Homo sapiens: one gene and its partner. The protein of the gene in region 2 interacts with the protein of the main gene of each other region in a biochemical or structural test. Each region holds a gene or a part of one and is shown on either strand. Other genes may lie near its edges.

What was found.
Region 1: the proteins of FRMD5 (region 2) and ITGB5 form a complex in vitro, tested with the Homo sapiens proteins (one study listed by IntAct).

The regions. Positions count from the first base shown.
Region 1 is NC_000003.12:124,761,227-124,765,438, forward strand, and holds the end of ITGB5 (integrin beta-5 isoform a precursor), read right to left. Parts: intron 3,332-4,212; coding exon 3,165-3,331; intron 2,493-3,164; coding exon 2,397-2,492; 3' UTR 722-2,396; downstream 1-721.
Region 2 is NC_000015.10:43,870,009-43,877,302, forward strand, and holds the end of FRMD5 (FERM domain-containing protein 5), read right to left. Parts: exon of another isoform or gene 5,798-7,294; intron 4,455-5,797; coding exon 3,877-4,454; 3' UTR 3,215-3,876; coding exon of another isoform or gene 3,140-3,214; 3' UTR 2,813-3,139; coding exon of another isoform or gene 2,799-2,812; 3' UTR 756-2,798; downstream 1-755. UniProt on the Homo sapiens protein: May be involved in regulation of cell migration. May regulate cell-matrix interactions via its interaction with ITGB5 and modifying ITGB5 cytoplasmic tail interactions such as with FERMT2 and TLN1.

The DNA of each region.
Region 1 (4,212 bases), on a different chromosome or scaffold from region 2:
GCCAAAGGCCCATTTTGATAAAAATATCTTAAAATTACAAAATGACCCATCTGGGGGTGGGTTGTGAAATGAAGCGTTTGGAATAGATTATCTTTGTGGTCACTTGCAGCTCGCTGGATAACCTTTAAAATTATACATTGGGTCGGAATCTCGGGAGTCAGATCTCCAAACAGCTCATGCCAAGAGCTTCCAGCAGGGGGCAGCAAGGCACCGTGAGCACTGGTTCCGTAACATCCCTCGGCGTCAGACGAAAACACCCTCACTTTCCACGTCAAGTGGAACTAGAACAAATCCTCCTTTGCTATCTGTGGCTCAAGAATGTTGTGCCCAGGCCAGGCGCGGTGGCTGACGTATGTAATCCTAACACTTTGGGAGGCCAAGGTGGGAGGATCGCTTGAGCTTGGGAGTTGTAGACCAACCAGCCTGGGCAACATAGTGAGACCTTGTCTCTGCAAAAAATAAAGTATTATCTGGGTGTGATGGTGCACACCTGTAGTCCCAGCTACTTAGGAGGCTGAGTTGGGAGGATCACGGGAGACCAGGAGATTGAGGCTGCAGAGAACTGAGATTGCACCTCTGCACTCCAGCCTGAGTGACCCAGTGAGATCCTCTCTTAAAAAAAAAAAAAAAGAATGTCGTGCCCTTAGAGAAAATGAGATTCTGAGCCAGTTAATGATTTGTCTCCAGGAAACCCAAAATTAAACATGAGAGAAACCCAAAGTTTCTTCCAAAATTACATTTATTTTTCTCAATTCAGAAAAGTCTCAACACCACAATTTATCTGTTTAATGTTTTCATTTACATTTGGCTTTATCCCAAAAAGGGTTTAACAGTGTCACCAAGTTACCAGGTCTCTGTTTCATCATATTTACACAAGATGAAGGAAACTCAATCTGTTCGTATTTGCCCCAGGTAATAGGTTCTATGTAGTGACAGGCATTTCACTATTTGACTTAGTGTTTGCCAAAATGAAGTAAGGGGAATTGGGTCCAGAGCTGAGGACAGATCCATTTGGAATGAAAGCATAATAACCTTGAAGTTATTCCAGTGACAAAAAATGATCAGTGAAAGATTTTCTAAGAGCAAGCAGGAATGAGGAGGCTGGCCCTCTGGCCAGCATGAGATGGGGTCTTAGGAACAGTTTGTCATTCAGTAACCTCCTAACAAACACTCGGGCAAGCCACTTCCCCTCTCTGAGAATCAGTTTCCTCTTCTGTACATAAGGGGAGAGGGTCAGTCAACCATCTTAGATATGGGAACTTAAGGGGACTTCATGGCCCTGCGGGAAAAAAGCTCAAATGTGTTTTTTTGCATTGGGCCTGCATGGGACGTAAGTGTTTCGGGAGTGAGGGGAGGCCTTGGAAGGGAACTGCTATTGCTAATGATGATTAAGAGATGACTTCGTGTGGGAACCACCACTCAACCCTTGCTTGTCTGTACAATCTATTTCCAGCCTCAGCCCCTCAGAACAAGGGGTGGTTTTTATGGTGTCTAGCCTGGAACTCTCTGTCAGTAAAAGCTGGAAGGGGCCAAAGGTATCTGCTCAGTGTTCCCCCTTGCACAGCCCTCACTGCCCCGAGCACCTCATGCTTACTTGACAAGCTGCAGTCTGGAGTATCAGACCAGCCTGTGTCCCATCCCTGAGGAAGTACACGGCCGCTTCAATCCCCACTGGGGGCACCATTTTAAGTCCGCTCAGAAAGAAAGAAACACACAGAGAGTATCAGACAAACACAAATTCTTTTGGTTTTAATCTTTACTTCCAATCCCAAACAATCTTGTTTCTTTTCATTATAAAAGTACTAAACAAACACGGACAGGAGAGGAAACTGACATTTGCAAACGATGTACCTTCAACAGGCATCTCAACAGCCCCATCACCAACACCTGTGTGCAAGGCATAGCCATCACGCAGAAAAGTCTCAGGACTCAGAACTACACCATAAATGCAGGATCTTTTTATTTCATATAAAAATGATCAATGTGAAAAAAGCCAAACTGTATGCTGGTTTTACAGACTCCGACCCTTCCTGACAGTCTTCTTGTCTGGCCAGGCTGGGGGCCCAGCATTCCTGGAAGGGAGAGACAGCCCAGCATCTCAGTATTTCATTGGGACAACAAGCTGGATGTGGCAGGGAAAGCTGAGAGCGCCAAGGTCCCCTTGCTTTATCCCAAGCTCGGAGGGACGCAGCCTGGCATGGCTCTGGCCTAGCAGCCAGGTGACATGGCCAGGCACCTTCCTGTACAGGCACTGTGGGCTCCTGGCCCAGGCTCACTAGAAGGTCTTCTCTGTGGTGCCTACCTAGGGAGCTGTGATCAAGCCGAGCAGCCGTGCAAGGCGTTTCAGTCTGACCTTTTCATCAGATCCCCGCTCCAGCCCCTCGGAGAAGGAAACATCAGTCCACAGTGCCATTGTAGGATTTGTTGAACTTGTTGAAGGTGAAGTCCACAGTGTGCGTGGAGATAGGCTTTCTGTATAATGGATTTGAAGCCTACAGAACACGGCGGGGAAGAGGATGAGGACACATGTTAGCTCACACACTCAAACCGACAGACGCAGGCCCTAGGATCCCTTCCCAGGTCAGCCCCCTGCGACAGCAGCAGGCAGAGCACTCAGGAGGAGACGGCCGTGGGCTCTAGGACAGCTCTGTGTTCCCCAGGAAAGCCATCGCCTTCTCTAAGCTTTCACTATCCACCTCTGGAAGGAGGAGTTGGGTCAGAAGGTCTCTGAAGTCCCTTCCAGCTTTAACAGAAACCAAGCCCAGGTTCAGCAGAAACTGACTGCGCTCAGTCCTCTGGGCATTTGCAGTCTGCCTGGGGTGACCAGACTGCAGGTGTGAGTGTTGTAATGGACCATAAGAATCTGAGCTTTCCTGTTGGTCTGTGCTCTCTCTGAGACTGGTCAGACTCTTCCTGAGGCACGCCCAGCGCCTCTGCCCCCATGACCTTCCTGACCTGGGTCTGGAACAGGGATCTGTGCAGCTCACTCTGCACTGGGGCTGTGCAATTCTCTCTCTCCAGAACTGGGCACAGCGTTTCTGGTGTTGATTCTTTTGTTTTTAATGCCAAAGACATTAGTGAGCCTCTATTGCTAACATACCGCTGAACTCAACCACGCCTCTGAGCTTGAAGTCTCCTCTGCTTCCCATTTCCCACGTGCTTACCATTTCATAGCGGGCCCTGGATCGCTCGCTCTGAAACTTTGCAAACTCCCTCCGGTCGTGGATGGTGACAAGCAGCTTCCAGATAGCCAGGAGTGCAAGCCCAACAAGGAGGATGCTACCGACCACAGCCAGGAGGATGGTCATGGCGTTGGGGGTGTTTCCACACTCTGGGGGGACCAGAAGCATGGTAAGCAAAGCCACTAGCATCACCATGCCCCTCTCACGCAACTGCAGGCATTTCTGAGATGAAAGTTGCACCCCTTCCAAAGGCCTTCTCCTCGGCTCTCCCTTAGATCCTCAGGAGGGTTTCCCCAATGTACAAAAAATGAAAGATTCAAAAGGGACAGTGACTGTTCTAAAGTCACACAGCAAGTGTGGCAAAGTCTAGATGAGGGCCCTGGGGCAGGGCTGCCTTTCCCCTCATGGGCAGCACCCACATCCCGCCTGGCCCAGTCTCCATTGCAGGATGCTGGACCCGCTCAGCTTTCGTGTACATGGTTTCAGGAGCAGACTGGGCAGGCAGGAGGTACCATGAAGCCACATGAAGCCACTTCCACAAGGTCTGGGCTGGGGGCCAACATTTGTAAGCCTTTAGCGTGGTGTCCCTTGGAGTAAATGTGCTTGTTTTCAAAGAACCTCAGACACAGCATTGGAAACAAAGCCTCATTCTTACAGGCGTGCATCCTAGGCTGGTACCACACTTCTCTCTGCCTCTGGCCTCAGGAAGGCACATTATGTGGTTGGGCTCAATTTGGAAAAATAGTTTGCAGTGCTGTCGATTGAAGAGAGCAAATCTTTTTCTGCTCCACCCCTGCCTCCCTACCCCCAAGAAGAATGTAAGGGGTGATATCAGATATTCCAGTTACTCCAAGGCAAAGGCTATTGGTCCCTGGGTCCAAGCAGAGGCAGAATGTTGGTATTTGGATTAAAGCTTGACCTCTTCAGTGGTGCTGGGAGCTGAGCATGGGAGCAGCAGGAATGTTGAACCCAGTGCTCCGTTGTCCTTGGAATCCATGCTGGGAAGCAGCAGTGGCCCCGCCCAGGCTGT
Region 2 (7,294 bases):
AATGCTATAGGGATATATTTTGTAAATATGTGGTGGTGGTATCATTGTAGTTCCTTCTTAGAAAGTATTTTCTGTGCTCCCACTTACTCCAGGCTTGAGTAAGAACAGCAGACCAGAAGGTGGACAATCTGGGTTCTAGTTTGGACTCTACCACTATGTAATCTTGGGAAAATCACTTAGTCTTCTTGGTTTTCCTCATCAGAAAAATACCCAATTCACTTTAAAATTATTACATATATAGCTTCTCAGTTTTTTTTTTTTTTTTTTTTTTTGATGTGGAGTCTTGCTCTGTCACCCAGGCTGGAGTGTAGTGGTGTGATCTCAGCTCACTGCAACCTCCGCCTCCCAGGTTCAAGCGATTCTCCTACCTTAGCCTCCTGAGTAGCTGGAATTATAGGCGCCCGCCACCACACCTGGCTAATTTTTGTATTTTTAGTAGAGACGGGGGTTTCACCACGTTGGTCGGGCTGGTCTTGAACTCCTGACCTCGTGATCCTCCCGACTTGGCCTCCCAAAGGGCTGGGATTACAGGCGTGAGCCACTGTGCCTGGCCGCTTCTCAGTTTCTAACAGTATTTATCTGGGGGTAAGGACAAGGATAATAGGTGGATACAAGCAAAATAATTATGTTATATGATCCAAGTGAATAGTAGTCAGCTGTGTAAATCCCACCAGTATCCTTTTATCTATGTGTTAGTAACTTTAAGGGAGGAAAAGTAAGACAGGCTATTATTAAAGAAAGAGCCCACTCTTCCATGATATTTAAATATTTATTTAAGTTTAAAAATAATCTTCATGGCACCAATGATTTTATGCTAACTACATACTGCATATGTAGAAAAAAGTACATTGCTTTGAAGGAAAATGTAACTTAAGAGTTTTTGGCACACAGAAGGTTAACAACTATATATTTTTAAATGTATCTAAGAAATTCACATTTGCAGGTAGTTTACCCTCTACTGCTTAAAGATGCAGTATGCTATTCTTTAGTAAGAGTTTTATTTCCTGATAGATGAAGCTATGAAAACCATTGCTTTTTCTACAATGAGATAAACTAATTTTGAGAGAAAATGAGAGACATGTTAGAACACAGTATAACCAGGTTAAAAACTTGAACAATTTTTAAAGGTGGAGATATACCAAAAAAGACTAGTCACCAATCAAAGGAGGTTTATTATTCAAGCACTATTTGAAAAGCAAACTGAAGGAAACTTTTCTATCCATATTTTCTGGGATGAGCCCTGGAAAAAAACAACCCTAAAGTTTCTGTTTACAGAGCAAAATTTAGCTGTTAGAAATGGCATAGACTACTGTACTGTTAGAACTCTAGACACAAGGAACATACTAGGATATGGAATACTGCATCTGTCTCTAATGTGAATATGAAAGGTCAGAGTTGAGGCTATCACTCACTGCATAGAAACACCAGATTCTACAAACTGAGGTAGGAGCACTACACTAAAAGGTAATCTTCTATGTTGCATAAGACAGTAGATACCAGGTGGACACCAGCCCCCTGTCTCCTGACAGCCTTTTCATCTCTGGGTCTACTTTTCACGTTAGTCCTGTGCTAAATAAAGCCTTTGCTATGTAGATGACAAGTGGCAGTGGCTAGTTGATTTTAACTGACCCCTAATCTCTACTAGGATCTCCTTCGGTTTGTATTGTCACTCGATAAATAGATGTTTATAATTCTGCCTAAATTGTTGCTGGTATGAAAATGGTCAGAGAAGCCCTCTTCCCTTCTTAGATTCCAGCTGTGTTTTAGCATTCCAGTATTTGATCTTGCCCATTTGGCATCAGACATCTCTTTGCTGGTTAGTTGTTCAAGCACCCTTTAAACAAGCAACCCTAGTGCCTCCACTGGGAAGAGGTCCCAGATCTTTGATACATGTCAGGCATGGAAACAGAGCTGACTGACCCTCTTCTGCTAACATACTGGTAAGGATCAGTTTTATTGTCTAGAGCAGGATTGGCGTATTATGGCCTGTAGGCTAAATTCAGCTCACTGTTTTCATAAAGTTTTATTGGAACACAGCCATGTTCCTTCATTTACAAATTATCTGTGGCTGTTTTTGTGCTGTGATGGCAGAATTGAGCAGTTGTGACACAGTATGGCGTGCTAAACCAAAATATTTACTGTGTAGCACTTGACATAAGTTGATTGACCTCTGGTCCAGATGAAAGGATGTCTTTAAAATTATGCAAATCTCTCCCTAAGAACCCCAATTATTCCACAGTTGTCATATTGTAAACATGGACATGGTTCTACCATCTCGGGGGACAAAATAGGGGAGGTCAAGTCTACAAGTGACTTGTTCTGTTCTGCGTTTGGGGCTGTCCAATTAGGGTATCAGCAGCTGCTCTACTTTTGTGTGGGTCCAGGAATATGTCCATTGACCACCCTTAAATAAGCCCTCAAGCCCCAGATGACTTAGAAATCTCTCCCTGAGATGAAAACAGGATCTTGTGTGTGATTGGTTTTAGAGTTGAAGAGCTTGGGCCTAGGATCCCACACTCGCCCTTCATATGCCTGTGCTGCGTGCTTCGAGGACTTCCCTCTGCAAGGATGGTGATGCTTTCCTAGAACTTATGCAGAGGATGACCCTAGGGGGCAGCATTTCTACATCTAAGTGTTGGTCTCTGCCACGGTCACATTCTGTGTTTTGTAGGCATCTCTTAGAAATCTATTTTAAAAGATTCTTTTCCTGGTCCCTTCTAAGGCTGTTGATCTTGGAATTCTATTTTCTGAAGCTTTTCATTCTCAGGATCAGTTTCTTTCTTGCATCGTTTAGTTCATCAGGCTCTATTTTCTTAATCCATAAAGTAAAAACAAAATATGAATTGTTAAGAAAATAACATTTCGTTGTTAAAATATAAATTGAAATAGTCTTTGGGTCAAGGGGGTGTATATAAAATAAGCACTGCTATCCAAATCTCAACAGTCTCTCAGGTAACTTAACTCTGCTTTCTCTTAACTACACTTTGTCCAACATTTCTGACAGAACTATCTATCTCTGGTACCACTGAATTCGTTTAACGCCCCTGGAGCACTATAAAAGTCTTGAGGTTCTTCGGAAAAAAAAAATCACGTTAAGTCTAGTTTCATTATACAAAACTATGGTGATGCCCACTAGGCTCTAGACTAAGGGGACAGACTTACCCCACCCCTGATGCTGCTGTTGCTGTAGCGGTGGTCCCTTCAGATGCCCACTCTGCTCAGATTTGAAAAAACAAAAGGAAAAGAAAATCCAACTCAGACCATCATAAGAAGCAACTTTCCATTTAATCATTCTACATGGATGTTTACTTTTTTAAAAGTTCTGGCTGGCAAAAAAAACAAACAAAAAACTAAACAGTCCCCATTGTCCAGATCCCTGGCCTGCCCTGCTGAGGCTGCAGTGATGAGTCTACTGGAACCCAGTGGCACCAGCAGGAAAAGCTCCTGCAGAATACAGAGGACAGCAGCTCTCTAGTTTTCAACTAGTGTCCCCTCTGCTAGGTGATACTACTGCAATAATCAGTAATAGTAAAATAAATTATTTTTATTTGATACTTCAAAATAATATACATCTATGAAAAATCAAAATTCAAAACCAAAAATTATCCTGCAAATTGGAAAGATGAGAAACAGAGTCGCTGAGCCTTTCTTGAAATAACTTCTGAAGAAAATGAGTTTTCCCAGTTTGTTTAGACAGGGCATGAGCCTATCCCTTTCTTCTTCTGGGAAACACCCTCCTAGGCTGCAGTGGACTTTGAGTCATGAGAGGAGGACTTGGTATATGTGCCGATGGTTCCGCGATGGGTCCCATTGCTGGGAATGGGTAGCCGGGTTCCTTGGTCCACCTGGCTAGTTTTTGGGAGGAGTCATGCCTTCTCAGGTGTCAATGAGCAGGCTCACCACTGAGCGGATTTTGCAGGCAAACCATCGCCTGAGGGGACAAAAGTATTGATAGTGGAATTGTTCAAACTCGGGGGTCTGGCGGATATCACGGAAAAAGGCAATGTCAAGGTCAGACTCGGTAAGGATGATCAGGAGGAGGAGCAAAACAAAGAGGAGTCCCATGGTCACAAGGAGCAAACGGAGGACACTTAGAACAAACTTATTCACCTGTTCCTCCTCGGGCCCGCTGTGCCCCTGACACAGGGCCCTCAGCTCTCCCCCAAGGGCCTCCACCTCTGTAGCAGTTGGGGTGCTGGCTTCAGATTCCTTCTCCTCCTCAATGCTGCAGGTGGCTCCATTGATCTGCCGGGAAAGCAACATCAGCTCCAGGCTGTGCTCAGCCACAGGGGTGGGCAGCACGCTGTCTGCAGGGCTGTAGGCCTCGTCTGCAATCACAGCTACTCGCTCATTGCTATCTGTCCGGCTGCTTCTCACGTGAGGCAGGAAGGTGTCCCCATGGGAAGTGGAACGCACTGGTGTGGAATGGGCACTGTCCCGTAAGGACTCTAGGCCTAGAAAGGCAAAAGGAACATGAGTAGGCTGTGTCCCAATGCACCCTTTGCTTTCCAGTAGCACCCATTGTGTTTTATTGGGTACCATTCTGCACACCCACATGACCAGCAGCAGTAGCCACTGCACTCTATTTTGATATATCGAGAAGACGACAGGCCGGGTATGGTGGCTTACACCTGTCATCTCAGCACTTTGGGAGGCCGAGATGGGTGGATCGCTTGAGGTCAGGAGTTCCAGACCAGCCTGGCCAACGTGGTGAAACCCCATCTCAACTAAAAATACAAAAATCAGCCGGGCCTGGTGGCACATGCCTGTAATCCCAGTTACTTGGTGGGCTGAGGCAGGAGAATCGCTTGAACCCGGGAGGCGGAGGTTGCAGTGAGCTGAGATCGCACTATTACACTCCATCCTCGGCAACAGAGTGAGTAAGATTCCATCTTAAAAAAAAGAAAAAGGCTGGGCGTGGTGCCTCATGCCTGTAATCCCAGCACTTTGGGAGGCCAAGGCGGGCGGATCATGAGGTAAGGAGTTCGAGACCAGCCTGGCCAACATGGTGAAACCCCGTCTGTACTAAAAATACAAAAATCAGCCACGTGTGGTGGCGGGCATCTGTAATCCCAGCTACTCAGGAGGGGAGGCAGGAGAACTGCTTGAACTTGGGAGGCAGAGGTTATAGTTAGCAGAGATCGTGCCACTGCACTCCAGCCTGGGTGACAGAGCAAGACTCTGCCTCGGGGCGAGGAGGAAGCCAGGTGTGGTAGTGCATGCCTGTTGTCCCAGCTACTTTGTAGGGGGGCAGATTGCTTGAGCCTGGGAGGTCAAAGCTGCAGTAAACCAAGATCACACCACTGCATTCCAACCTGAGCAACAGAGAAAGACTGTCTCAAAAAAAAAAAAAAAATATATATATATATATATATATATATATATGTATGTATGAAACAAGAGAAGGCACAGAAATCACAGTGGCCATTTTAGAAGAGTTTTTCTTTGCTTTTTGCTTACGGTTTTGGCCTAGTTTGTGTGTGTTTTGAGATGGAGTCTTACTCTGTCGCCCAGGTTGGAATGCAGTGGTGCAATCTCAGCTCACTACAACTTCTGCCTCCCGGGTTCCAGCGATTCTTGTGTCTCAGCCTTCTGAGTAGCTGGGAATACAGGTGTCTGCCACCACACCCAGCTAATTTTTTTATTTTGAGTAGAGACGGGGTTTTGCCATTTTGGCCAGGCTGGTCTAGAACTCCTGGCCTCCCAAAGTGCTGGGATTATAGGTGTGAGCCACCGCACCCAGCCCCTAATTTGTTAAAGATTCTGCCTTTCTTGCCTTTGGTGTCCTGGGCCTAGTTTTTTTTTTTTTTTTTTTTTTTCTTTCAGTCTTTCATATGATTTTATTTTCTTCCTTCAACCATAATAATATGATATCCAAATTTTGTCTTAACTGCTGGGTCTGTAAACACAGGCTTATCCATCACACTTATAGGCAAGGCAAATGCTGCTTCTTGAAATGGTCCCACCATGGACCCTCTGGTCATCCAACCCAAGACGCCCCCTTGCCTGGCTTTATCTTCACTATATTGTGTGGCCACTTCATTGAATCTCATCCCAGACTTTAACTTTTCCATGGCTTCCATGATTTTGCCATGTTTTTCCCATAGAATGTGTCTGACCTTTACTGCATTGCCACCACCTTTGGGACCTTGAGCCTTCTTGTCAGCACTGTCACTCCCAGAGGCTGCACCCCCTTTCCCCGCTTTTCCAGAACCACTTTTTCCTTTGGGCGGCATCTTGGAAGCTTGTTGTTGAACTCTGAACTCTGGGCCTGGTTTTTACCCCAGTTTGAAAGAATCTGAATTCCAAACTACCCCTGATGCAGAGCTGGGACCACGGTTTGAGTCTCAAGTCTGCCTGTTGGGTGGAGGGCTTTAAGAGGCAGGAATGGGCCAGACACGATGGCTCCCATCTGTAATCCCAGCACTTTGGGAGGCCAAGGCAGGTGGATCACTTGAGCCAAAGGGTTCAAGACCAGGCTGGGCAACATAGACACTGTAACTATAAAATTTTTAATAAAAGAGAGGTAGGAATGGGGAGAAGGGGAATATGTCATGCCTAACTGGGTTTCATCAAATACCGAATATCCTTGTAAAAACCCAGCATACAGCATCTTGAGCTTATAAGGTCAATATTTTTGGATTTCTGCAGCTGCTCTCAGTCTCTTCAGCCTCCGTTCTAGCTGTTCTGACTTTGTGGAATGATGGGGTAGAAACTCTCTCTGCTCTTCTTGAGGGGGCATGGGAGTAGTCCCTGGCCAGCTCCCTCTCTTTTCCTCTGAGAAGGAGCTGGGTCTAGAATAGGCTGAAAAGCTCCCCTATCTTTAGACACTTCAGAGCACAAAACAGTTTGAGAAGATCTTGTTGCGGGGGTGGATTTCTCTTACATTTGGTAGGAGGAAGGGGTATTCTATCCCCTAAAACTACCCATTATCTCTTCTCTCTTCCCAAGGTTCTCACAGGACTCAAGCCCTGGCAGGGAAAACAGGAGCTGGTTACACTCTCAACTGAACAGCAGCCACCCAGGCCAGAGGCTTTGGGCATATAGTGAGTGAGCGCGGCCCCCATCACAGTGCTCCCAAGGAAATGGCTTCTTGTTTTAGGCTCAATGTCTGCATTTTCCACTCCTGGCCATCTTGGTGATGCTGGTGTGGTTCTCTCTGCCTTTGTGACCTATGACAAGAAAAGCCAGTCCCCTTCTGTTGCCCTGAAATAGTCCCTGACAATCCCAGACTGAACCAGATTCCCAGCTCAGTAAAGGTTTTACCTAAGTCAGGTTGATTAGGGAGTTTTTT